2 separate regions of the Homo sapiens genome follow, and region 2 is linked to region 1. The links come from fine-mapping of genetic effects on gene expression. A gene starts in region 1. The other region holds a variant in brackets. All regions are shown on one strand. Distances are from middle to middle. Region 1 holds the start of ZC3H18 (zinc finger CCCH-type containing 18). Region 2 overlaps ZC3H18 (zinc finger CCCH-type containing 18).

Region 1 (12,197 bases):
GTTGGGGTTTTTTTGTTGTTTTTTGTTGTCGTTTTGAGACAGAGTTTTGCTATTGTCGCCCAGGCTGGAGGGCAGTGGCGCAATCTTGGATCACTGCAACCTCTACCTTTTGGGTTCAAGTGATTCCCCTGCCTCAGCCTCCCGAGTAGCTACGATTGCAGGTGCCCGCCACCACACCCGGCTAATTTTTGTATTTTTAGTAGAGACAAGGTTTCACCATGTTGACTAGGCTGGTCTCGAACACCTGACCTCAGGTTATCTACCTGCCTCGGCCTCCCAAAGTGCTGGGATTACAGGCATGAGCCACCACACCTGGCCTAAAGTTGATTTTTAAAACTAGCTTCCTGCCTCTTCCCTCCCAGTTTCCACCCCCAATTGGCAACAAGTTTTAACTCTTTTCATGGTCTCTTCCGGCATTTTCCCGATCTCCAGTAATATTCATACCAATGTTTCTTGACTTTTTCTTAATAAGGGCACTAGTCACACTCCCAGCAGCAGAGTACGTGATTCTAGTTGCTCCACATTCTTGTGAAAAAAAAAATATGAAATTAATTTTTTAGACCAGTTTTAGGTTTAAAGAAAAATGAGAGGCCAGGCACAGTGGCTCACGCCTGTAATCCCAGCACTTTGGGAGGCTGAGGCGGGTGGATCACGAGGTCAGGAGATCGAGACCATCCTGGCTAACATGGTGAAACCCCGTCTCCACTAAAAAATACACAAAAATTAGCCAGGCGTGGTGATGGGCGCCTGTAGTCCTAGCTACTCGGGAGGCTGAGGAGAATGGCGTGAACCTGGGAGGTGGAGCTTGCAGTGAGCCGAGATTGCGCTACTGCACTCCAGGGTGGGCAACAGAGTGAGACTCCATCTCAAAAAAAAAAAAGAAAAATGAGCAGAGTTCCCCTGTACCCCCAGCACCCCTGCCCATCTCCCCTCTTATTAACACCCTGCACTGGTGCAGAACATTTATTACAATTGAGATAGGAGGCAGGACTTGACTCCAGAGGCAGGGCTTGGAGCTGGGACCAAACAGGACTGGCTAAAACAGGGCAGGGCAGAAGCAGCTTTTTATAAGACACACCAGACTGGGCGCAGTGGCTCATGCCTGTAATCCCAGCACTTTGGGAGCCCAGGCAGGCAGATCACCAGAGGTCAGGAGTTTGAGACCAGCCTGGCCAACATGGTGAAACCCTGTCTCTACTAAAAATACAAAAATTAGCCAGGCATGATGTCCCATGCCTGCAGCCCCAGCTACTCAGGAGATTGAAGCAGAAGAATTGCTTGAGCCCAGGAGACAGAGGTTGTGGTGAGCCGAGATCAGGCCACTGCACTCTAATGTGGGTGACAGAGGGAGACTCCGTCTCAGGAAAAGAAAAAAAAGACACACCCACCAGTGTTCTGTGTCAGTTTACCATCGCCATGGCAACACTCCCACCCCTTTCCATGGCAATGACTCAGTGACCCAGAAGTGACTACTCCTTCCCCAGAAATTTCTGCATAAACTGCCCCTTAATCTGCATGTAATTAAAAGTGGGTATAATGGGTCTGCAGAAGTGCGTTGAGCTGCTGCTCTCTGCCTTCTGGGCAGCCCAGCTCTGCAGGAGCCGTCACGGACCTGCCACACTGCCTCTTCAATCAAGTTGTTCTCTTCTACCTCCGGCTTGTCCTTGAATTCTTTCTTGGGCAAAGCCAAGAACGCTGGCAGGCTAAGCTCCACTTTGGGCCTCACCTGCCCTGCATCACAACCAACCAGCCCGTATCGGGACACGATCATTGACTTAAGTCCACAGTTTACATTACAGTTCACTCTTGGCGTTGTGCGTTATGTGGGTTTTGGCAAATACGTAACGTCCCATAGCTGCCATTATGGGACATTACATATTTGTACTTCTTCATACAGAAGAGTTTTGCCACCCCAGAAATGAGGCTTAAAAGTCATTTACCCACTTCCTGCTCTGGAAGAGGAGGGTCTGTGCTCTCACCGCCTGGCACGCCGTGTTCCATCCAGCCTCTGCTCTCTGAATGGTTTTTAGGCTAAATAAAATGTTTACTAAATATTTTTAAGCACTAATAACAATAACGGCCTTATGCAGTGGCTCACACCTGTAATCCCAGCACTTTGGAAGGCCAAGGTGGGAGGATCGCTTGAGGCCCAGAGTTTGAGACCAGCCTGGGCAACAGAGTGAGACCCCCACCTCTACAAGACCCCCACCTCTACGAAATGAACAAATAAACAAACATGATGGACTCCAGCTTAAAAACAGAACATCCCAACCAGGTCACGCTACTGACTATCAGCCCCCACCGCAGGCTCCGTGGCACTGCCTCCTGGTCACTGCTCCTGGGGCCCCCATCACCGCAGATTCGGCTGCCTGTAATGAGTCGCAGCAACACGAGCCGAAGCATTTGTGTCTGGTTTCTTCTGCGCAACATCCTGCCTCTGAGATCCATGTTGCTTGTAGGGGTAGCGTGTCCTTTTCGTTCCTGTACGATATTCCATTGCATGGGGGTTACACCCCAGCTGGTTCATCGTTCTGTCACTGAAGCACCTTGGGGTTCCTTCTAGTCCGGAGTGTAACGAGTCATGCTGGGGTGAACGATCTTGGATGTGCCTTTTGCTGGACGTAGCAGCTCATCTCTTCCGGGAAGTCACAGAGGAGTAGCACGGCCCAGGTGCCGCCGCACGAAGGCTGCGGTTCCGTGAGCGCCGTCGCAGGCTTCTGGAGCGGGGCCACCATTTTCACTCGAGCACAGGCCGCAGGCTCTGGGTGCCCCACACCCTCAGCAAAACCGCTCATGATTTCAATTTGATAGAAACGTGGACCGGGCGCAGTGGCTCACGCCTGTAATCCCAACACTTTGGGAGGCCGAGGCGGGAGGATCACGAGGTCAGAAGATCGAGACCGTCCTGGCTAACACGGTGAAACCCCGTCTCCACTAAAAATACAAAAAAATTAGCCGGGCGTGGTGGCGGGCGCCTGTAGTCCCAGCTACTCGGGAGGCTGAGGCAGGAGAATCGCTTGAACCCAGGGGGCGGAGGTGGCAGGGAGCCGAGATGGCGCTACTGCACTCCAGCCTGGGCGACAGAGTGAGACTCTGTCTCAAAAAAAAAAAAAAAGAAAGAAAGAAAGAAAAGAAATGTGCCCACCCTGTCTGCTTCTGCACTTGCCTTTGTCATGCAACCTCACAGATGGTCTTCACCCGTTTATTTATATCTGTGTATACACACTGGAGGTTCATGCGTTAGCATTTTTAACAACCGCGATGTTGCAAATGTTGTACCAGATTACTATTACAACAGTACAATCATCTGCTCATCAACATCTGGGTGGTTTTCTGGTTTTTTCCTTTGTTCTTTTTTTTTCTTGAGACGGAGTCTCGCTCTGTTGCCCAGGCTGGAGTGCAGTGGCATGATCTGGGCTCACTGCAAACTCCGCCTCCCGGGTTCATGCCATTCTCCTGCCTCAGCCTCCCGAGTAGCTGGGACTACAGGCGCCCGCCACCACGCCCGGCTAATTTTTTGTATTTTTAGTAGAGACGGGGTTTCACTGTGTTAGCCAGCATGGTCTCGATCTCCTGACCTCGCGATCTGCCCGCCTCGACCTCCCAAAGTGCTGGGATTACAGGCATGAGCCACCGTGCCCGGCTCCTTTGTTCTTTTAGTTATGACTACTAACAGACCTGCTATGTCCTTGTTCATGTCTCATGCCCACGGGCAGATGACACCCCAGTCCGGTGGCCCACCTGTACCACTGGGCATCAGAATCCCCTGAGAGCTCTTCATGGACCACAGGGCCCTGGGACCTCACTCCCAGTCACTGGTGCGGCCACTCTGGGGCAGAGCCCAGGAAGGCACATTGCTAACAACCCCTAGTGATACTGAGGCTGCTTGCCCGGGTCCCACTTGGAGAACCCTGTCGAGGGTGGCACTGCTGGTCACAGGGCACTTCTTTTAACTAACATTGTTTTCCAAAGAGGCTGTGACCAACAGAGTTTACTGTTCATGAAACTCAGATCGCAGACAGGCACGTGTCTGTCACAGCCGGTGCCGGCCGCTCCTTTCCATGGACAGTAACGTCCATGCAGGCTTATGTTCATCAGCTGAGAAAAGGGCACTTGCTGGGTGGGACCTTGTCTTATCGACACATAGAGTCTGCAGAAGGTGCCAACTGGTGTCGCAGGGCTGCTCCTGACACGACCCAAAATCACCAGGGTTGAATTCACATTCCTCTTACGTAACCATAACAAGTTGCTGGGACTACAGGCACGCACCACGGTGCCCTGTTAATTTTTTTGTAGAGACAGGGGTCTTGCTTTGTTGCCCAGGCTGGTCTCAAACTCCTGGAGGAGGTGGTCCTCCCACCTTGGACTCCCAAAGTGCTAGGATTACAGGTGTGAGCCACAGTGCCAGGCCTGTGGTACCTCTTCCAAGGACACTAATCCTATCAGATCAGGACCCCACCCTTATAATCTCATTTAACCTTAATTACTTCTCTAAAGGCCCTTTCTGCAAACACAGTCACATTGGGGATTAAGGCTTCACATACAAATGTTAGGGGGACAGAACTCGGTCCATAGCATGGAGTCGCACAGGTTTTGTCCTTTTGCGATTGGCTTGCTTTACTTAGTATGTTTCCAAGGTTCACCCATGTTGTGGCATGGGTCTGAACTTCACTCTTCTTGATGACTGACTCACACTCCACTGCATGGACAGCCAGCATTTTGTCTGTTCCTCAGTTTGTGGACATCTCGCCCCCTTGTTTCCACCTTGGGGATATGGAGGAAGATGGGATGAGCGAAGCCCTGTGATCCCCAGGACCAGCCACGTCGTTGGCAAGGGTCAGCGCAGGATGAAACCGCCGGCCCCTGGTCTCCGGCCGGGCCCTCCGTCTCTAGAGCAGCTCGCACCGCTGCAGCCCCTGGACGCCCCGGGCTGTGGACGCGCCCGTGGGACACCGCGCTGAGCAGGACACGCGACAGGTCCCCTCACTGGCGCTGCTCGCGTTGAACCGCGCGGGGAGCCAGGCAGCCCACGGGAAAGGTAAGAATTGTTAGGCTTTTAATCTAAAGTCGATACCTCAAAAAATAATTCCGGAGGTAAGCATTTAATATCAACATTCAATAAAGCAGGAAGTATCAGCCCGACGAAGACCGCCTTAAGTTTTCCACTTTGATGAACTCGATCATCCCCGGGGATGAAGAACCCGCCGGCCCAGCCGGAGCCCCGTCACGTGACCCGGCGGCCGCGGGGAGCTCTGTGCGCAGGCGCGGATCCGCACGCCCGCCGCCTGAGAAGCGAACTCCCCGTGGCGCCTGCGCTGTAGCGGGGGTTCGGCTGGCTCGCGCGGGTCCGGGCGCGCGCTGCGGGGGCGGAACCGCGCGGAGGCCGGAAGGAAGCTGGAGGGGGCGGGGCGAGGGAGGGAAGCCCGCCGGCCGTAGGACTACCGTCGCGGCCTGATGACGTCGCACAATGGCCGGCCCCCGCGGGTAGTGGAGCCCGTTTGTTCCGCCCGTGTCGAGCCTGGAGCCAGAACCTGTGAAGAGCGGAAGGGCCAAGGGACGTCTTCTCCACGCCGCTCCGACTCCAGGGGAGCCGTGGCCTCCTCTCCGCCCTAGCGCTGAGGTTAGCTGGGGCCGGGAGGGCGGCGGGAGGCCGGGCCGGCGGCGGCGGGAGGAGGAGGCCGCCGAGGCGGCGGCGGCGGCCGCGGGAGGGAGGCCCGGGAGCCCGGCGCGCCTCCGGCCGTGCGGACCCACCGGCCGAAGCGTGGCCCTCGGGCCCAGGGAAGGGGACCTTGAGACAGGCACCACCCCGAGTTCCGTCCGTAAGCCGGCCCCGCGGTCCTGGGGCGCCCTGGGCGCCCGAGCTCCTCGCGCGCTGCCTCCGCGCCCCGCGGCAGAGTTTATTTTCCTGAAGCTGTCATTTCTCTTCCGGGCCACTCGCGTGGCACATGTGTGCCGCCGGCTAAGGGGCGGTGAGAGGCGCCCAGATTCACCTCCAGAGTAGGTCATCCCGGGCTGCTGCTGGGCTCTTCGGAGAACTTTGAGCTCTTTATGAACCTCCTGGAACTTGCTCCGCAGCTTCAAAGTGTGCACAGGTTGGGCGCAGTGATTGCCCCAAGACGCGCGCCGGTCTCTTAGGAGTATGTAACTTCCTTGCCCCTTGGATTAGGAGATCAGAGGTGCTGGGTCCTTTATATAGACCAACTGCAGCTATAATGCTGGAAGAACTGAAACTTAACAGCCTTACTCCTGCCAAACATTTTTCCTGAATACTTTATGACAACTGAGTTTGCCGGGTAGAGTGGCCGTTTTAAATGAGCTTTGTTCGAACAACGCTAACTCATTTGCAAGAGTAGGTCATTCTTCAGACCCATTTGGGAAAATGGAAGAAGAGAGTGTTTGGCATCTGAAGTACCGTTTGGGGTGTAGCAAGGTGCTCATCATGTCTCCTGTTAGACTCACCTCCAGCCTGTTGTCTGTAGAGTAGTCCTTTCCCGTTCAGTAGTTGGGATTATCCGGGTGAGGTTTGACCTCGGCTGAATCCCGCTTCCCAGCTTTGGGAGGAGAGTCTTTTCCTGATAATTTTACTATCTAAGGGCAGTATGGAGCCCAGCCAGCCCTGGAACCAGTCAAATGTGTCCCAAAGCCGGAAACTCCTCTCCCGTTGTAGGTGGGACATGCTGAAATATTGTAAGAAAGCTTTGTGGAGTCACTCCAGAAAGCAAACAGGTAAGTTAACCTATGGCCTACATCGTGTTTACAGAGATTTGTATTTTGTCACAGCTACAGAGCATCTCAAGGTGAGTACCTCTTTATCAAGGAGTTTAGTGGTCACGCTTGGTCACTTTGCACGTGGGGTCTGTCACCAACCTTGATAACGTTCATTTAGATATTTTAAGTCCATGAGGTTATGAGTCAGAATTTTAACCAGATGTACCAGAACTTAGGCATTCAAATAGGTACTGCTCTGTTGAAAGTAATTGTCCCAAAATGTGCTTGTATTTCATCGGTGCTTCTTTGCCAGAATCTCTTTAGAACTCCTGTTGTGGTAGTAAAAATGTAGTCATATGGGAAAATCAGTCTTATTCAATAGTCACCCTCCAGGTTTGACCAAAAGTTTACTTACGTGGTTGGTAGCTCACCTTATCAGGTGAGACTCTGACTTGCAGCACTTTATCAAAGTGACTAGCTTGAGAGGAGGAAGATTTGCCACCACTAAGAATACCAGAAGACTTCTTTAGGCTTGGAAGGTCATTCGCAATGAGAAGGTCCCCAAACGCTCTGCATTTCAGCAGTGCCGTTGGAGTCTGTGCATCCTCCCAGAGGGGCTGCTCGGAAGGGAGGTAGCACCTGCTCTTTATTATTACTATTATTTTTTGAGACGGAGTCTCACTCTGTTGCCCAGGCTGGAGTGCAGTGGCAGGATCTCGGCTCACCGCAACCTCCTCCTCCTGGGCACTTATTTTAAATTCCTTTCTGGTAGGCAACAGGTAGTTCCTCAATTAACGAGTTTTTTGTCATGTATTCAACAAATATCTATCAAGTATCATCTGCCAAATGCAGAAAGCAACGGAGACGGGACGATGGGCACTTGTTATTTCATTCCTTAGGCAAGTTCACCCATCTGGTGGATCAGAGGACTAAGGATTTAGTTCTAAATTGTGCTGAAAATCTTCAGTTATAGATAGTGTAAGAAGACCAAACTGAGCACAAATTGCAAACGTGGGTATCAGTTGAGACTCTTCTACTGACACCCCTGTCTACACTTCTCATTTCATTGTCTACACTTAAGAGGCCACGTTTCCCTTCGTAGCACCTTATTACTATTTTTTGAAACGGAGTCTCACTCTGCTACCCAGGCTGGAGTGCAGTGGCATGATCTCGGCTCACTGCAACCTCCTCCTCCTGGGTTCAAGTGATTCTCCTGCCTCAGCCTCCTGAGTAGCTGGGACTACAGGCACGTGCCACCATGCCCAGCTAATTTTTGTATTTTTAGTAGAGACAGGGGTTTCACTGTGTTGGCCAAGGTGATCTCGAACTCCCAACCTCGTGATCCTCCCGCTTCAGCCTCCCAAAGTGCTGGGATTACAGGCATGAGCCACCACACCCAGCCAATTGTGTGATTTTTAAAACTAGTTTGAGGAGACATTTAGTTTTGCATAAAAGTTGGTTTATTTAAGAGATCACTTTGTTTCCAAGGTTGACATTAAACTATAAAACATGAGAATCAGAATTTGTCATATTTCAGGTCTGGGTTCAGCTTGGGGCATCCTACTGGGCACCAGGCGCTCCGCTTAGGCAGCTGGGGAGATGTGAACTACCTGCCCTTCTATGAGGAAGATGTTTATACATTGTAATAAAAAGTGTACGAAGATAGTATAGGGTGTTACTAATGTCGATAGCTAGGCAAGAGAGAGAATTGCCAGTTTGCCACCGGTGACTTACTGCCACAACCCCACGCAGACTCCCAGTCTTGAACAGTCAGTGCGTAGAGGCCTTAGCAGCCTTGGTGCTTTTCATCCTTGCTTTTGTTGCCTTGGGCTGCAGAAATGCTCTGTGCATCAAGCGCCCCTGTGATACTGTTTGGGGATCAGCTCCTTGACTTTCCCATTTTCAGCAGTGTATACCAGTTTAGGACTACCTTTAATAAAAAGACGAGGGTCTTACCATGTTATCTAGGCTGGACTCGAACTCTTGGGCTCGAGTGATTCTCCCACCTCAACCACACAAGTAGCCGGGATTCCAGGTACATGCCACCACTCCTGGCTTAGGACTGACTTTTTAATAATTCCTCCCAGTAGTCCTGTCTCTGGATAGTAACCGAATAGTGTACTTAGAAAACCAAAAAGTGAATCATTTTCAGAACTGTCTGCTTTTAAGTGACTTGGAATGGATTGGTTGGTTTGTAAATCTATGTTATTGCTAACCATTTAGGTTTTTTTTTTTGAGACGGAGTTTTGCTCTTTTTGCCCATGCTGGAGAGCAATGACACAATCTTGGCTCACTGCAACCTCCGCCCCCCCGAGTTCAAGCAATTCTCCTGCCTCAGCCTCCCGAGCAGCTGGGATTACAGATGCCCACCACCATGCCCAGCTAATGTTTTGTATATTTAGTAGAGACAAGGTTTCACCATTTTGACCGGGCTTGTCCTGAACTCCTGACCTCAGGTGATCCACCCGCGTCAGTCTTCCAAAGTGCTGGGATTACAGGCGTGAGCCACCACCCTTGGCCCATTTAGTTTTTATAAAGTGATGAATTTTAAATGATTTGAATTTTCTTTTGAGACGGAGTCTCGCTTAGCCACCACCTAGGCTGGAGTGCAGTGGTGTGATCTCGGCTCACTGCAACCACTGTCTCCCAGGTTCAAGCGATTCTCTCGTCTCAGCCTCCCAAGTAGCTTGGATAACAGGCACCTGCTATCATGCCCAGCTAATTTTTGTATTTTAGTAGAGACCGGGTTTCACCATGTTGGCCAGGCTGGTCTTGAACTCCTGACTTCGGATGATCCACCTGCCTTGGCCTCCCAAAGTGCTAGGATTACAGACGCGAGCCACCACGCCTGGCCAGATTTGGGTTTTTTTGGCTTTTTTGTTTTTTGTTTGAGTCAGGGTCTCACTCTGTCACCCAGGCTGAACTGCAGCCTCAACCTCCTAGGATCAGGTGATCCTCCTATCTCAGCCTCCCAAGTAGCTGGGACGACAGGTGCCCTACCACACCCAGCTAATTTTTTTTTTTTTTTTTTTTTTTTTTGGTAGAGATGGGGTTTTGCTATGTTGCCCAAGCTGGTCTAGAACTCCTGGACTCAAGTGATCCGCCCACCTCAGCCTCCCAAAGTGCTGGGATTACAGGCATGAACCACCGCACCTGACCAATTTGTTCTAATGTATCTTTTTTTTTTTTTTTTGAGACGGAGTCTCGCTCTGTCGCCCAGGCTGGAGTGCAATGGCGCGATCTCGGCTCACTCCAAGCCCCGCCCCCTGGGTTCACGCCATTCTCCTGCCTCAGCCTCCCGAGTAGCTGGGAACACAGGCACCCGCCACCACACCCGACTAATTTTTTGTATATTTAGTAGAGACGGGGTTTCACCGTGTTAGCCAGGATGGTCTCGATCTCCTGACCTCGTGATCCACCCGCCTCGGCCTCCCAAAGTGCTGGGATTACAGGCGTGAGCCACCGTGCCCGGCCTCTAATGTGTACTTAATCTTAATGATTTCCATTAACAGCAAAAAAAAAAAATGTTTAACTGTAGGTTGATACCAATTCTTGATACTGTGCATCTTTAAACAGGTTGTATTAAAAGTATAAATTTAAAAGATGAATATTTTTATCTTTAGTGTGTATGGTTATTTGAGATACAAGACATATAAATGTGTATGTGTATGACTTGCTGCGTCCGTAGTTATCTTGAGATGAATAATCTGTTTCCAGACCTTGCCGAGATGCCGAGCAGTGTGACCGTGACATACGTTATTTTAACAGCCTCACAGACTGAACAGTCAAGTGACCGCTGACCTGGCACTGTCCCTGCTGCTCCACACTCACTTGGTGGTGACTAGCTGCCCTGGTAGTGGTGGTGTGGCAAGTGTTTGCCAGGCAGGTGTTGCCGTTCTACACCTTCCTACCCGTCTTAACACCGTCCACTTTTAAAGCATGGGTAGCAGTGTACTTTCTATGAGTTTTTGAGGAGGGAAACTCGAAAATATTAACTTTATAATTTAATCTGGATTAGTAAAAATAGGAATGAAGTCTGAAGTGACCCCGTCTTTTTTTGTTTTTTGAGTTTTTTTTGGAGATTGGTCTCACTCTGTTGCCCAGGCTGAAGCACATTGATGCAGTCTTGGCTTACTGCAGCCTCCACCTCCTGGGCTTAAGCGATCCTCCTGCGTCAGACTCCCAAGTAGCTGGGAATATAGGCACGCACCACCACACTCTGTGACTTAGTTTTTGTTTGTTTGTTTGTTTTTGTTTTTGTTTTGAGACGGAGTCTCACTCTGTCGCCCAGGCTGGAGTGCGGTGGCGCGATCTCAGCTCACTGCAAGCTCTACCTCCTGGGTTCACGCCTTTCTCCTGCCTCAGCCTCCTGAATAGCTGGGACTACAGGCGCCTGCCACCACGTGCAGCTAAGTTTTTGTATTTTTCATAGAGACGGGGTTTCACCGTGTTAGCCAGGATGGTCTCGATCTCCTGACCTCATGATCCACCTGCCTCGGGCCTCCCAAAGTGCTGGGATTACAGGTGTGAGCCACCGCGCCTGGCCTGAATTTTAGTATTTTTTTTTTACAGAGACAGGGTCTCACCATGTTGCCCAGGCTGGTCTCGAACTGCTGGGCTCAAATGATCCTCCCGTTGCAACCTCCCAAAGTGCTGAGATTGTAGATGCGAGCCACCGTACCTGGCCAGCCTCGTCTTTTACATACGCGCGGTACTTAAGTGTGTCAAGTTTCCTGCCAGAGTTCTTTTCGACAGCAGCTACCTGTATGGGAAGAGGGGTTCTCAACTTAGGAGTGTGAGTTGCTGAGCGGGTGAACACAGCCCTCTCGACACCTGCTGGAGGGGCCAGTGAACACGCAGGCAGGGCTCTGAGCCTGCATTGCTAAAGGGCAGCCAAGGGATTCTCGGAGGCCCTCAGAGGCTGGCCTTCGAGAAGTGTGTTCAGTAACAGAAAAGGCTCCAGACTTGGACACTGCCGAAGGCTGGCCCAGGTTCCTGCTTCAGGATGACTCCAGAAAAATGGTGAGATCTGGGCCTGCAGTTTTGCTTCCTCGTTCCATGATACAGTTTATCTTTAATTTCAAAAGTAAATACTCCTCTAAGAATTCACACAGCTGTCCTTTGCGATCCGTATCGTTACTCACTTTCTGTTAACTCGTGTGGGCTGCCCTTGAGCGGGGAAGGGCTAGGCCAGGCTGCGTCTCCTTCTGCCACATCTCATTTTGCCAGATTGCCAAAAACGGGAGGCACTTAACACCCAGCTTAGCTGAGCAGTCTAGCCTTGTGGAGTGGAGTTATGGCCTGTCTTTCTCTGCAGAGTGGAGTGTGGGATTTGGGGCAGGGCCGTGTGGGACCAAGCAGGATGGAAGTCCTGCTGCTTCAGGCCAGGAAAGTAGGGACAAGGTTTGTTTTCCATTTTGCTAAAGGCTGTCAATCTGTATTCTCTCTTTTGCAGAACCGTGGGTACCGATGGATGTGGCCGAGAGCCC
Region 2 (12,197 bases), 30 kb after region 1:
GGTTCAGCACAGAGCATAATATATATGCTCAGGTAAAAGGGGGCAATGATTGATGGATGGAGCCCCAGTATATTGATAACTGCCTCTGGGAATGGCCCTGGAGGCATGGGATAGGTGGTCAACTTCACAGTGTACCTTTTAGAGTGGGTGGGTATTTTTTATTTACAAGTATTTCATTTGATTATGAAATATTTCATATATATAAAATAATACAGTGTTTACACAAGCGTAAAGATTAATAAGAGAATAAAACAGTTGGCTGGGCGTGGTGGTTCATGCCTGTAATCCCAGCACTTTGGGAGGCCGAGGCGGGCGGATCACCTGAGGTCGCAAGCTCAAGACTAGCCTGACCAACATGGAGAAACCTCGTTTCTACTAAAAATACAAAATTAGCCAGGCGTGGTGGTGCATGCCTGTAATTCCAGCTACTCGGGAGGCTGAGGCAGGAGAATCACTTGAACCTGGGAGGCGGAGGTTGCAGTGAGCTGAGATTGTGCCATTGCACTCCAGCCTGGGCAACAAGAACAAAACTCCATCTCAAAAAAACAAAAACAAAACAAAAGAAAAACCAGTTGCTGCTGTGCCGACATTCCAGTTAAGAAAAAGACCATCATCCTGTCTTGAAGCCAGAAATAGTACTTAGACATTTCAGCAGTGGAGGGGCCGCCTCCGCCCCGCTCCAGCGGCCTCTGTCCCTCCTTGTCCTCTTCTGGCCTGAGGCCATGTCTGTGTACACAGTATCCGCAGAACTATCTTTATACTGTTAGAATCACAATCCACATAAATTTTGGGTTTGAAGTCCCATTTGTAAACCAGAAGATCTTTATTGTTGCTTCTATTTTCTGGATAATTTCTTTCTTTCTTTTTTTTTTTTTTTTTTTTAACAAATTGCTTTTTAAATTATGAAAGTAAGGCTGGGGACGGTAGCTGACACCTGTAATCCCAGCTCTTTGGGAGGCCGAGGTGGGCGGATCACCTGACTTCAGGAGTTTGAGACCAGCCTGGCTAACATGGCGAAACCCTGTCACTACTAAAAATACAAAAATTAGCCGGGCTTGGTGGTGCACACCTGTAATCCCAGCTACTCGGGAGGCTGAGGCAGGAGAGTTGCTTGAACTGTGAGGCAGAGGTTGCAATGAGCCTAGGTCGCTCCACTGCACTCCAGCCTGGGCAACAGAGCGAGACTCCATCTCAAAAAAAAAAAAATTAAAAAAAGGAAAGAAAGTAATATGGGCTGGCAGAAGGCAAGAAAATAAAATCTAAAGCCCCTTCCCACATTCCCGACAGTTGGGTGTGTTCCTACACAGATAAAAGTTCACATTTTAAAAAGATAGATGGGACAATGGTGTTCTTTCTGCCTGACGTCTGCTGGAAGTGTGTCCCAGCTAGACGTGCAGACCAACTGTGCTGCTTTCCAGAGCCATCTTCCCCTTTACTCTGGCCAGGGGCAGGACAGCGCTCAGCACCCCCGGGCAGGTGGCTCCCGAGAGCTGAACACTGTCACCCACTAGTGTCTGGTCTCTAGTGGCAGCCCCACGCTCGCCTTCTCAGCTTGCTCTTTGGCGCTCACTGGTTTGTTCTCTTCTGCCTTGTTCCTCTTTTCTCCCCATGCCAATATCAGTGAGAAAGGATCTTTTTTGATAGTAGGTTCGTAGGTGATGTCCTAAAAATTTTCATAAATACAGAAAAGAACGATAACATTTAGCCACCACCCAGATACATATTTTAGATGAAAAAGAAGTACAGAGGCCGAGTGTGGTGGTTCACGCCTGTAATCCCAGCACTTTGGGAGGCCGAGGCTGGCAGATCACAAGGTCAGGAGTTCGAGACCAGCCTGACCAAGTTGGTGAAGTCCCGTCTCTACTAAAAATACAAAAATTAGCCTGGCATGGTGGTACCCGCCTGTAATCCCAGCTACTCAGGAGGCTGAGGCAGGAGAATCACTGACACCCAGGAGGTGGAGGTTGCAGTGAGCCGAGATTGCATCATTGCACTCCAGCCTGGGACTGTCTCACTCAGTCAGAGTGAGACTCCATCTGAAAAAAAAAGGAAAAGGAGTACAGAAAAGCTGTGGTTTCTATTGTCAGCACTTTTCTGTACTTGGACATTTTTTACAATGAGCTTTTGTTACTTGTTTAGTTACACACGTGATTTTGAATACTGCATGAGTATTTTCAGAGGCAAACCATGAAGAGCTCTGTAGTGTGTTGAGTCTCAGATGGATGACTGCATAGTCAGTTTTTCTTTAAATCTCTCTGAGGCTCTGGATTTTTGAACCCCCTATAGAATAACATTTCCCAACCTCTTTTGTTTTTTGTTGTTGTTTTTGAGAGAGACTCGCTCTGTTGCCCAGGCTGGAGTGCAGTGGCACGATCTCGGCTCACTGCAAGCTCCACCTCCTGGGTTCACGCCATTCTCCTGCTTCAGCCTCCCAAGTAGCTGGGACTACAGGCACCTGCCACCACGTCCGGCTAATTTTTTGTATTTTTTAGTAGAGACGGGGTTTCACCATGTTAGCCAGGATGGTCTTGATCTCTTGACGTCGTGAGCCACCACGCCTGGCCTCCCAACTTCGTTTGACTTATGTGTGATCTCTGAAATGCTTTTAGAAATTTTAAAAATTACTTGTCATTTTTGCATTTCCAGAGAAGCAGTTTTAAGTTTTCTTTCGTGTTTAATTTGGATCGATATTGTTATTATGTTGTATTGAGTTGGTTTTAATGCAGGCTTAAGTGTTCCTGATGTTTAAGGTTAAAATTTTAAATGATTTAAAATCTAACTGCATGTTAACCCATTGAAAAAAATTTTTAAACCGCTTAGATACTATATGCCATATTTGGTTTTAAACAATGTGTACACATTATCTATTCCCAAAAAAGTACATTTTAAAAAAGTGATTCACTCAGTAATTGAGTTAGACACTTAGATGTCTTATATTCTACACTTGAAAGTCGAGGTCTCCTTTACTAACCCGGATATTCTGTTGAAGATGAAGGTTTGTGATTGTTATTTATGAGCAAAGTGTAAAAGCCCGTTTCAGTTCCAGAAATATCTTGAAATGCCCTGTGAGAGTTTTCTCTGTGAGAGAAATGCAGACGTACAGAGGTGGCCAAGGGGACCCTGAGCACACCTGCAGGCTTCTGATCATTGTTAATGCTTCTCATTGATGTCTGTTTCGGCACAAATACAATTAACATCCAGTTGTACCTAGATGAGCCTGGGCCAGGGCTGGAAGCAAAGCTCTGGGGCTTTTCTGGTTTAAGGGGAAAATTAATACTCAGACAGTTGATACGCGTGAACTCTCCACAAAGTGACTTTGTGGTCACTCTGACCGAGGTGCCTGGCAGCCTCTGGGGAACTGCCGTGCCTGGGCAGGTGCAGCTGTCTGGCTCAGCCTCTCCAGGCTCATCCCGCCCACCTCCCCGTTCAGTTCCCACTACTGTGTGGCTCGCCATCAGGCCTGGGTAAACATGGCCTCTGCCCCCTCCCACCCCCCACCCCAGCAGCTGCCCTTGTGCAATTAGGCTCTTGTGGACCCTTTCTGATCTCACTTTTGTTTCCATAGGGAACTGTACCTGGGGAATGAATTGTAGGTTTATACACCCTGGAGTGAACGACAAGGGGAACTACTCCCTAATCACCAAAGCCGACCCCTTCCCGCCTAATGGTGCCCCGCCTCTCGGACCTCACCCGCTGATGCCCGCCAACCCTTGGGTGCGTGATGCCTCTTCTTTCATTGTTAGCACATCAGCCAACTGAGCTGTGTCTGAATCTCAAGCTTAAGACAAGTCACTGTGCCTTAGCACAGGCTCAGTGCCCCCTTTCGGCTGCTTCTGTCGTCCCGAGTGGAAGCAGGCCTCGGCTTTCCGAGGACGGAGTGAGGCTTGGTGGAAGGAGAGCGGCCACACACGGCCGGCTTGTGTTGTAGTTGATGTTTTTACTGTCTGGTTTCTCTGTACACTTGAAAGTTTTACTTTCTCACCTTCTCCCTTCTCGTTTTTCAATAGGGTGGGCCGGTAGTTGATGAAATTTTGCCTCCACCCCCTCCAGAGCCCCCAACAGAGAGTGCCTGGGAACGAGGACTCCGGCATGCAAAGGAGGTAAACACAATTCAGCAGAAATCCCGACAAGAAAGATGCTATTACAGGAGTGGTTCTTGACAAAACTGGGATTTCCTCGGTCCAGAGAGAGCCCCAGAAATCTCTGAAGTTAGGCGTCTGTTTCTGTGGTGTCTTTCTTTATTTTTTATTTATTTATTTTTTTGGAGACAGAGTTTCACTCTTGTTGCCCAGGCTGGAGTGCAATGGCCCAAACTCGACTCACTGCAGCCTCCGCCTCCCAGGTTCATGTGATTCTCCTGCTCGGCCTCCCAAGTAGCTGGGATTACAGGCATGCGCCACCAGGCCCGGAAGGATGGAGAGTTATATCTAACTGTCTCAGGCAGCAGCCCAGTAGGCCAGGGAGTTCAGTCCAGGGCATACCCACTGTCTTCATGGGGCTGGATCAGCACTGGGCCACACCCCAGCTGGCACTGCCCAGGAGCACAGGGTGCAGTCTCCAGCCACTCACAGAAAGCCTGGCGAGGCTGCCCGAGCCGCACCCCCAGGATCTGCACCCCACACTCCTGAGACTCAGTGTCTGCTCTTCCTGGAGAAAACTTGGAGCTTTCTGGTCCTATCACTGCACACTTCCTCCCTCTAGGCCCACGTTGGCCCCAGTGTGTGAGCTTCAGCTCTGGGGACCACTCTGCTGGCACCCAGCCCCACTTCCTCATTTTCCTGGTCAGCCTCCCTGCTGGGAAATGACGGACAAGATGTTCCTTCTCACTCCCTCGGCATGTCACTTCCTTCCCTCTGAGACTCCAGCCACTCCACCTGCTGCTTGTCACTGAGTGACTGAACCCTGGATCTAGTTCCAAGGGTAGTTGAAGGAAGTGATGAACACCTCATGTGGGCACACGGAGGCCGGGGGCAGCTGTTTGTGCAGAGACGGGCACAGACTGCCCTCCCCAGAAGGACAACTGTGCTGTGTCCGCCCCTCACCCCTTGAGCACTTGCAGCGTGCAGCTCCTGCTCCTGCAGGGCTGCTGCGGTCGGGTGGGACGGCTCCCTTTGTGTTTCCTAACAGCGACGCCCGGTATTCTGTTCCATGTTGACTTCTTTCTTCTTACAATGGTAGGTTTTAAAAAAAGCAACTATTCGAAAAGAACAGGAGCCTGATTTTGAAGAGAAAAGGTTTACGGTGACCATTGGCGAAGACGAACGGGAATTTGACAAAGAAAATGAAGTTTTTCGAGATTGGAATTCTCGGATCCCGAGAGATGTCAGAGACACAGTGTAAGGAATGGCCCTGCCTGCCCCTCCGTTTCCTTCCTGCATGCGGCCACGCTCCGGAGAGAGCAGCCATGTGCAGGGCCCCAGGGTGCGCTCGGCTGAGACCCAGCCCCACTCACTGGAGTCTCAGTGACGTTCCTGAGAGCATTCAGGCACGGTTCTCAGAGCTCATCTCAGTTTTTTGCTTCTAGGAAGGAAGCGTTAGGGCTCTGTGCCATGGGCCTTGACTGGCAGCACTCACACCGTTGTGGTTCCTGAGCTCTGAGAGTTTTCGCTGCTGTCCTTGAGGCCTCTAGAGCCCCACAAGTCTGTGTTTCTGGCTCCTCACCCCTGCCCACATTACCCAGGAGCCAGGAAACGTGTGGAGGTT[G/A]CCACAAGCCAGGAACACAACAGCTGCGGCCTCTTCGCTGTCAGGGCTGTTCTGCCTTCACTGCTTCTCCTCCAGGGCATTGATGGCTGGTTTTTGTTTTTTGGTTTTTTTTCCCGAGGCAGAGTCTTGCTCTGTCGCCCAAGCTGGAGTGCAGTTGCGCAATCTTGGCTCACTGCAACCTCCGCCTCCCTGGGTTGAAGTGATTCTCCTGCTTCAGCCTCCTGAGTAGCTGGAACTACAGGTGTCTGCTACCACACCCAACTCAGTTTTGTGTTTTTAGTAGAGATGGATTTCACCATGTTGGCCAGGATGGTCTCGAACTCCTGACCTCAAGTGATCCACCCACGCCTGCCTCCCAGAGTGCTGGGACTACAGGCGTGAACCACTGCACCCAGCCCCTTTATGCCTGGTCTTTAAAAATCCTGTCTTAACAGAAGAAGTGCCTGGGTCGAAGGGTGGAAGTCAGATCTTGGGGGATTGCATGGCATATAAAGTGCTGTTTTCCTCTGCCTGTGGATGGCACGGTGAGGTTCAGGGCAGGGAACTGGATTATAATTCGGGCAGATCTGAATTGGCACTCCATCATGCTGAGGCTTTAGCAGCCCTGTACATTTCTGGTTGCTATTAGGGAATCATAATCACTATGATTTCTATCTGGAGTGACAATAAACGGTGCTCAAAAAAGGAAGGCGTGCAGGGCTTGCACTCCAGGATTTGGTCCTGTCGACTTGGCCCTGCAAGGCCCTTCTCAAGGCCTTCTTGCCGCGAGCAGGCTACCCTGGGCTTTCCGCCTGCGGAAGTTGGGGGAGGAAGCCCCAGTGGCCCACACCTGCCCCAGCAGGTGAGAGCTTAGAGGTTAAAGGGATAGGTATTTAAAGACTTGGTTAACATGTACATTTTCTAATTAAGTTTTGTGTGGAATGTCAGATCACAGAAAGGAGCATTTGAGTCAGAACTCTGCAGGATCACCAGGGGTGTCTCCTGAAGCCCTGGAGGCCTTTGTGTTTTTTTGTTAGATGTGGATATCGTCTTTCCTTCCCCAGAGCTCGTGTGCACAGAGGTCTCTATAAATATGTGTGGGGAAGGATGGATTTTAGAACCTGGGCGTGATCCTTGACACTCTATTTCCAGTTTCCCTGGCTGGAGCAGGGACCGGAAAACTGCCTGCTTGGAAGTGGTTCGGCAGGTCTCTGAGGTTTTTTGGAGTGCCCTCTGTGTGTGTTTTACCTATCAGTGTTGGTTACAGAAACAGGTGTCTCCCATCCTGGCACCAGGTGACAGAAGCTGGCTCCTGGCTCCCTAGCTTCTCTCCCAGGAGCCGGTATCTACACTGCAGGACCCCCAAATGTTAAAGTCTCGGCAGTCAGGGCTGAAAGGTTTTCACTGGTGTCTGAAAGCCAGGTATTTCTGTATGTTTGTATTTTGTTTGTTTTTATAGAGTAGCCTCTGTGTATGTTACAGTTAACCTGAGGCCTTTTGTGCCATGCCTCCCCCGAGACCTGGTGAGTCAGGACCTCTGGGAACAGGGTCAGGGTGCATGTGTCACAGTGGCGAGGTGCCCTGGCTGTTTCTGATAGACACAGTGGAAAGAACTGTCAGGGTTCTGCCAGGAGGGTGGAGACCCCCCTATGATTGTCACAAAGAGCATCTAAGGGAAGGGTGGGTCCACCAGGTAGGTTGCTACAGAGGAAAACAGTGAGTAGAGGGAGCCAGTACAGCTGGGCTGCTGAGACCCGGAGGGAAGGAAGGAGCTGCACTGCAAGTGCAGATGTCCTGGTGCGTGCTGTTGGCAGGAGTGGGTCCTCTTGTCACCCAGCCTTCTCGGTCCTACCTGTGCCCGCTGCAGGCAGGGCCTCACCTGGAACAGCTGGCAAAGCAGGTCGCAGCTTGTAGGGTGTGCAGGAGGGTGGCTGGCAGCCCAGTTGGCGGTCAGGCTCCAGGGCCTTAATGGCACAGAAGAGGCCAAGCCAGCAGCACTTATGTGTTGCAATCCTGCTGCATGACAGGCTTCGCATCCAGTGCTCCTGACCTGTTTTGGGTCACAGCAGGCCGAGGTCAGGGCCATGTCCCTGCCTCACAGGTGAGGAGAGTGCAACCTGGATTGATAGCTGTGACCTCCTGGTGTGGTGCCTTAACCTCAGCCACATCTGCCCCCAGCAGCATGTGAGAGGTCAGATTCTTAGCTCGACCCCAGGAAGACTGAGTCTGAAACTCCAGGGAGAGCCCAGGCCAGTGGTTTGTTTTTAACAAGCCCTCCAGGTAATTCTGATGCATATTAAAGTTTGAGAACCATTGATTGTAAGTAATTCCAGGGACACAAATTCTCTGAAGATACCATGTTATTTTATTTCCTAATGTCGAGAGTTTTCTGTTGGTTTTTTGAGATGAGGTCTTGCTATGTTGCTCAGGCTGGTCTCCAACTCCTGGACTCAAGCAATCCTCGCGCCTGAGCCTCCTAAGTTGCTGGGAATATAGACGTTAGCCACCTGATGTTGAGTTTTGCAAATAATTGTCACATAGAAGCACCTTCATGCAGGCAGGCTTTGCTTACTACAGGATGGAGCTCTAGGCACTTCATTGTAGAACCAGTGGAATATGAGGACTTTTCGAGAAGTCTTGAGGACATAAAGGACAAGAAAATTGTTGTTCCTTCTTTTTTTTTTTTTTGAGACGGAGTCTCGCTCTGTCACCCAGGCTGGAGTGTAGTGGTGCCATCTTGGCTCACTGTAAGCTCCGCCTCCTGGGTTCACGCCATTCTCCTGCCTCAGCCTCCCGAGTAGCTGGGACTACAGGCGCCCGCCACCACGCTCAGCCAATTTTTTGTATTTTTTAGTAGAGACAGGGTTTCACCATGTTAGCCAGGAATGGCCTCAATCTCTTGACCTCGTGATCTGCCTGCCTCGGCCTCCCAAAGTGCTGGGATGACAGGCGTGAGCCACCGCACCTGGCCTGTTTTTTCTTTATATCTCTTTTGGAATTAAAAACTGACCTAGCAGGATCACTTAGTAAACATAATACTTTGTGGCCGGGCACGGTGGCTCACGCCTGTAATCCCAGCACTTTGGGAGGCCAAAGCGGACGGATTGCCTGAGCTCAAGAGTTTGAGACCAGGCTGGGCAACACGGTGAAACCCCATCTCTACTAAAATACAGAAGAAATTAGCAGGGCGTGGCAGCATGCACCTGTAATCCCAGCTACTTGGGAGGCTGAGGCAGGAGAATTGCTCGAACCTGGGAGGCGGAGGTTGCCAGTGAGCCAAGATCATGCCCCTGCACTCCAGCCTGGGCAACAGAGCGAGACTCCGTCTCTTTTTTTTTTTTTTTTTGAGACGGAGTCTGGCTCTGTCGCCCAGCGTGGAGTGCAGTGGCGCAATCTGGGCTCACTGCAAGCTCTGCCTCCTGGGTTCACGCCATTCTTCTGCCTCAGCTTACCAAGTAGCTGGGACTACAGGTGCCTGCCACCATGCCCGGCTAATTTTTTTTTTTTTTTTTGTATTTTTAGTAGAGATGGGGTTTCACCATGTTAGCCAGGTTGGTCTCGATCTCCTGACCTTGTGATCCACCGGCCTTGGCCTCCCAAAGTGCTGGGATTACAGGCGTGAGCCACCGTGCCCAGCCCCATTTCTTAAAATAATAATAATAATAATACTTTGCTAGACAGACGCACTCTGATTCGCAGCTTTAAATATTCCGTTTCTACCACCTCAAGCACTTTGTTCAGGTACCATCTGACTTATAAAACCTCACATATTGGCTGGATACAGTAGCTAGTAATGTCTATAATCCTAGTGTTTTGGGAGGTCAAGGTTGGCAGATCAGTTGAGCTCGGGAGTTGAAGACCAGTCTGGACAACATGGCAAAACCCCATCTCTACAAAATATACAAAAATTAGTTGGGCATGGTGGCACGCACCTGTAGTCCCAGCTACTCAAGAGTCTGAGGTGGGAGAATCTCTTGAGCCCGAGAGGTGGAGGTTGCAGCAAGTGAGATCGTGCCACTGCACTCCAGCCTGGGTGACTGAGTGAGACTCTTTCTCCAAAAAAAAAAAAAAAAGTTCTCACATATGTAAGACATTAAGAAATGAAATGACGGCCGGGCACAGTGGCTCACGCCTGTAATCCCAGCACTCTGGGAGGCTGAGGCAGGCAGATCACAGGGTCAGGAGATTGAGACCGTTCTGGCTAACATGGTGAAACCCCATCTCTACTAAAAATACAAAAAATTAGCCAGGCGTGGTGGCGGACACCTGTAGTCCCAGCTACTCGGGAGGCTGAGGCAGGAGAATGGCGTGAACCCAGGAGGCGGAGCTTACAGTGAGCCGAGATGGCGCCACTGCACTCCAGCCTGGGCGACAGAGCAAGACTCCATCTCAAAGAAAAAAAAAGAAATGTCATCTCTGCATAGGGCTCCTGGGGATGCTGTGCCCAGAATATTCTACAAGTCTAATAGGGACATGTGACCCAAAAGACACAAGGGCCTCTAGTGCGCACAGGACGTCACCTGTGAGAAATGCGGTCATCAGTAGTAGCCCCACCGTGAACAGAGTTTCTGATTAAATCAGAGTCAGGCTGTCAGGCCATGGCCAGGGCCATGGACTGGGCCCCTGCCAACTCCCCATACGCCCCCAGCACAGAGAGTAGTGCAGTGCCGGTGTATTAGAGGCGGAGGTGCAGGCTGCTGTTCTTTGGAGTAGGATGTCAGGCTGGGATACAGAGGAAACAGAACAGTAATTTTCAAAAAGCACACTCCCTTTCCTCAGGTAACAGGTCTACCAGATGCTGGTCCAGCACCTCCTTTGTCCCAGATGCTTAACTGAGAGAGCACAAGTGGCTTTTACCTGGGATTTGCTGGTGCCCTGTGGGGAAGCCCCCTGAGTGAGCAGGGAGGGAGGGTTGGGCTACCTGGAGAGTAAGACAGGGCCTGCTCCACATGGGTAAGCCCACAGTCCCACAGACTCAGGGCAGATGGATGTATGGGTGCCCAGGCATTGCCTGTGGCCTCTGCATGCCTTTGGGGACCTCCTCCCCTGCCTGCACTTTCAGTGGCCAGCGTTGCAACAGGAACGTGGGCAACAGGCAGGTGGGCACCAGGTCGACCATGCTGGGTTGGGGTGAGGGCAAGAGGCAGCAGGGGGCTGCGTCGCTGCTCCCTTTGTGAGCTGCCTGGGACCCTCCTTTTCACCTTGGGTCTCTGCAGCAAGCAGGGACACGTGAGCATCTGACTCCCACCCTTTGCAGAGCACAGCCTCCCTCCACCTGGGTTGAGGTCAGCACGATTTCAACCTGAATTGTGCAAATGCAAGTTGCATTTCATTGTGTAATATTGCATAACCCTTAGATTAAAAGTGAGTAGTGTTAGACATTTTAGAACTTTTTCCTAGTACTTTTTGAGATCCAGTTTCCTTGTCACTGAAATGAAATGGTTAAACAAAGTGATCTCGAAGCTCCAAACTTCTGTCTTACACGTTCTCTAATTGCTCGACTTTTCACCTGCCATGCCTCTCCCTGGGCAAGGCTGTGGGCAGAAACCACCTGCCCCTGATGGGCATGTCCAATGGTTCCCCTTAGCCAGGACCTCGGGTTCTCCTCTCCAGCGAGGAGTAGGTCCACTCCACGTGCCAGTGCTGAGTCTGACGCTGCCCAGACCTCTGGGGACGCGGGGCCTCTGGAGTGCAGATTCCACGTGTGTGCACAGGACACTGTTGGTGTTGGCTGGTTAAGTGGTGACTGCAGAACGAGGTGCGAGCCTCCCAGTTGCTGCGAGCCAGCTTTGCCCAACCTTGCTTCACCACAGAACCCTTTTCTCAAAAGGCCCATTAACATTTTGGGTTCCCTAAAACAGTTGGGGAAGAGTTTGTGCATACCATGATACTGCCCAGTAGCATTTATTTTTAAATTGAATTAAATACCTTCCAAATTCATTTCAAGAGTGTTTCAGAATTTTTCAGGATGGTGCTGAGGAGTCCGTTGTTGGCATGGTTGCAGTTCCTGGTGGCGTGTTGTGTTGACACGTTCTCTAGAACGCATGCTGCGGAGCAGATGGTTCCGAGGCAGCCACGCTGAGGAAATGCTGTGTGCCTCATTCCTATCCGCTCATCCACGACTTCCAGAAAGCCTGCAGGAAAGAGGCCTTTTCATTTTGCTTAAGTACAGTTTCCCAAAAACAAATTTGCCGGCACAGTCCTCTTGTCAGAGAACACACGCCTCACACATTTTGGGAAAGGCTTTTCTACCCTATTGGGCTTACGCAATCAGCCTCAGCCCACCGAGTAGTTGGGGGCCACAGCCATGCACCACCAGACCTGGCTGCTGATGTGTTTTTTGTAGAGACGGTGTCTCGCGTGCTGTCCAGGCTTCCTCTTCGTTTTTATGTAGCCTGATGTCATATTGCCACAGGTCTCTACAAATGTTTCCTGAGTGTTATAATTCAGTGTGATTTGAGTAGTGTGCACATTAGATTGAACGGTGTCCGACTGATGGGAACGGACTGAAGCTG

The links. PIP is the estimated chance that this variant, and not a neighbour inherited with it, causes the effect.
Region 2: its variant is fine-mapped to the expression of ZC3H18 in whole blood (TOPMed, PIP above 0.99).

Annotation. Positions count from the first base shown.
Region 1 is chr16:88,564,947-88,577,143 of GRCh38, forward strand. It overlaps ZC3H18 (zinc finger CCCH-type containing 18), which reads left to right and starts at 5,457. Exons shown (of 18, transcript NM_144604.4): 1 at 5,457-5,620; 2 at 12,164-12,197. The coding sequence starts at 12,178. RefSeq lists enhancers at 4,638-4,747, 4,858-4,907, 5,998-6,047 and silencers at 5,148-5,477, 5,658-5,727.
Region 2 is chr16:88,594,613-88,606,809 of GRCh38, forward strand. ZC3H18 (zinc finger CCCH-type containing 18) reads left to right here. Exons shown (of 18, transcript NM_144604.4): 4 at 3,566-3,714; 5 at 4,008-4,100; 6 at 5,179-5,336. Among named protein-coding and RNA genes, the nearest start is that of ZC3H18, 30 kb to the left of the region's middle. The variant G/A (reference allele first, on the strand shown) is at 5,704.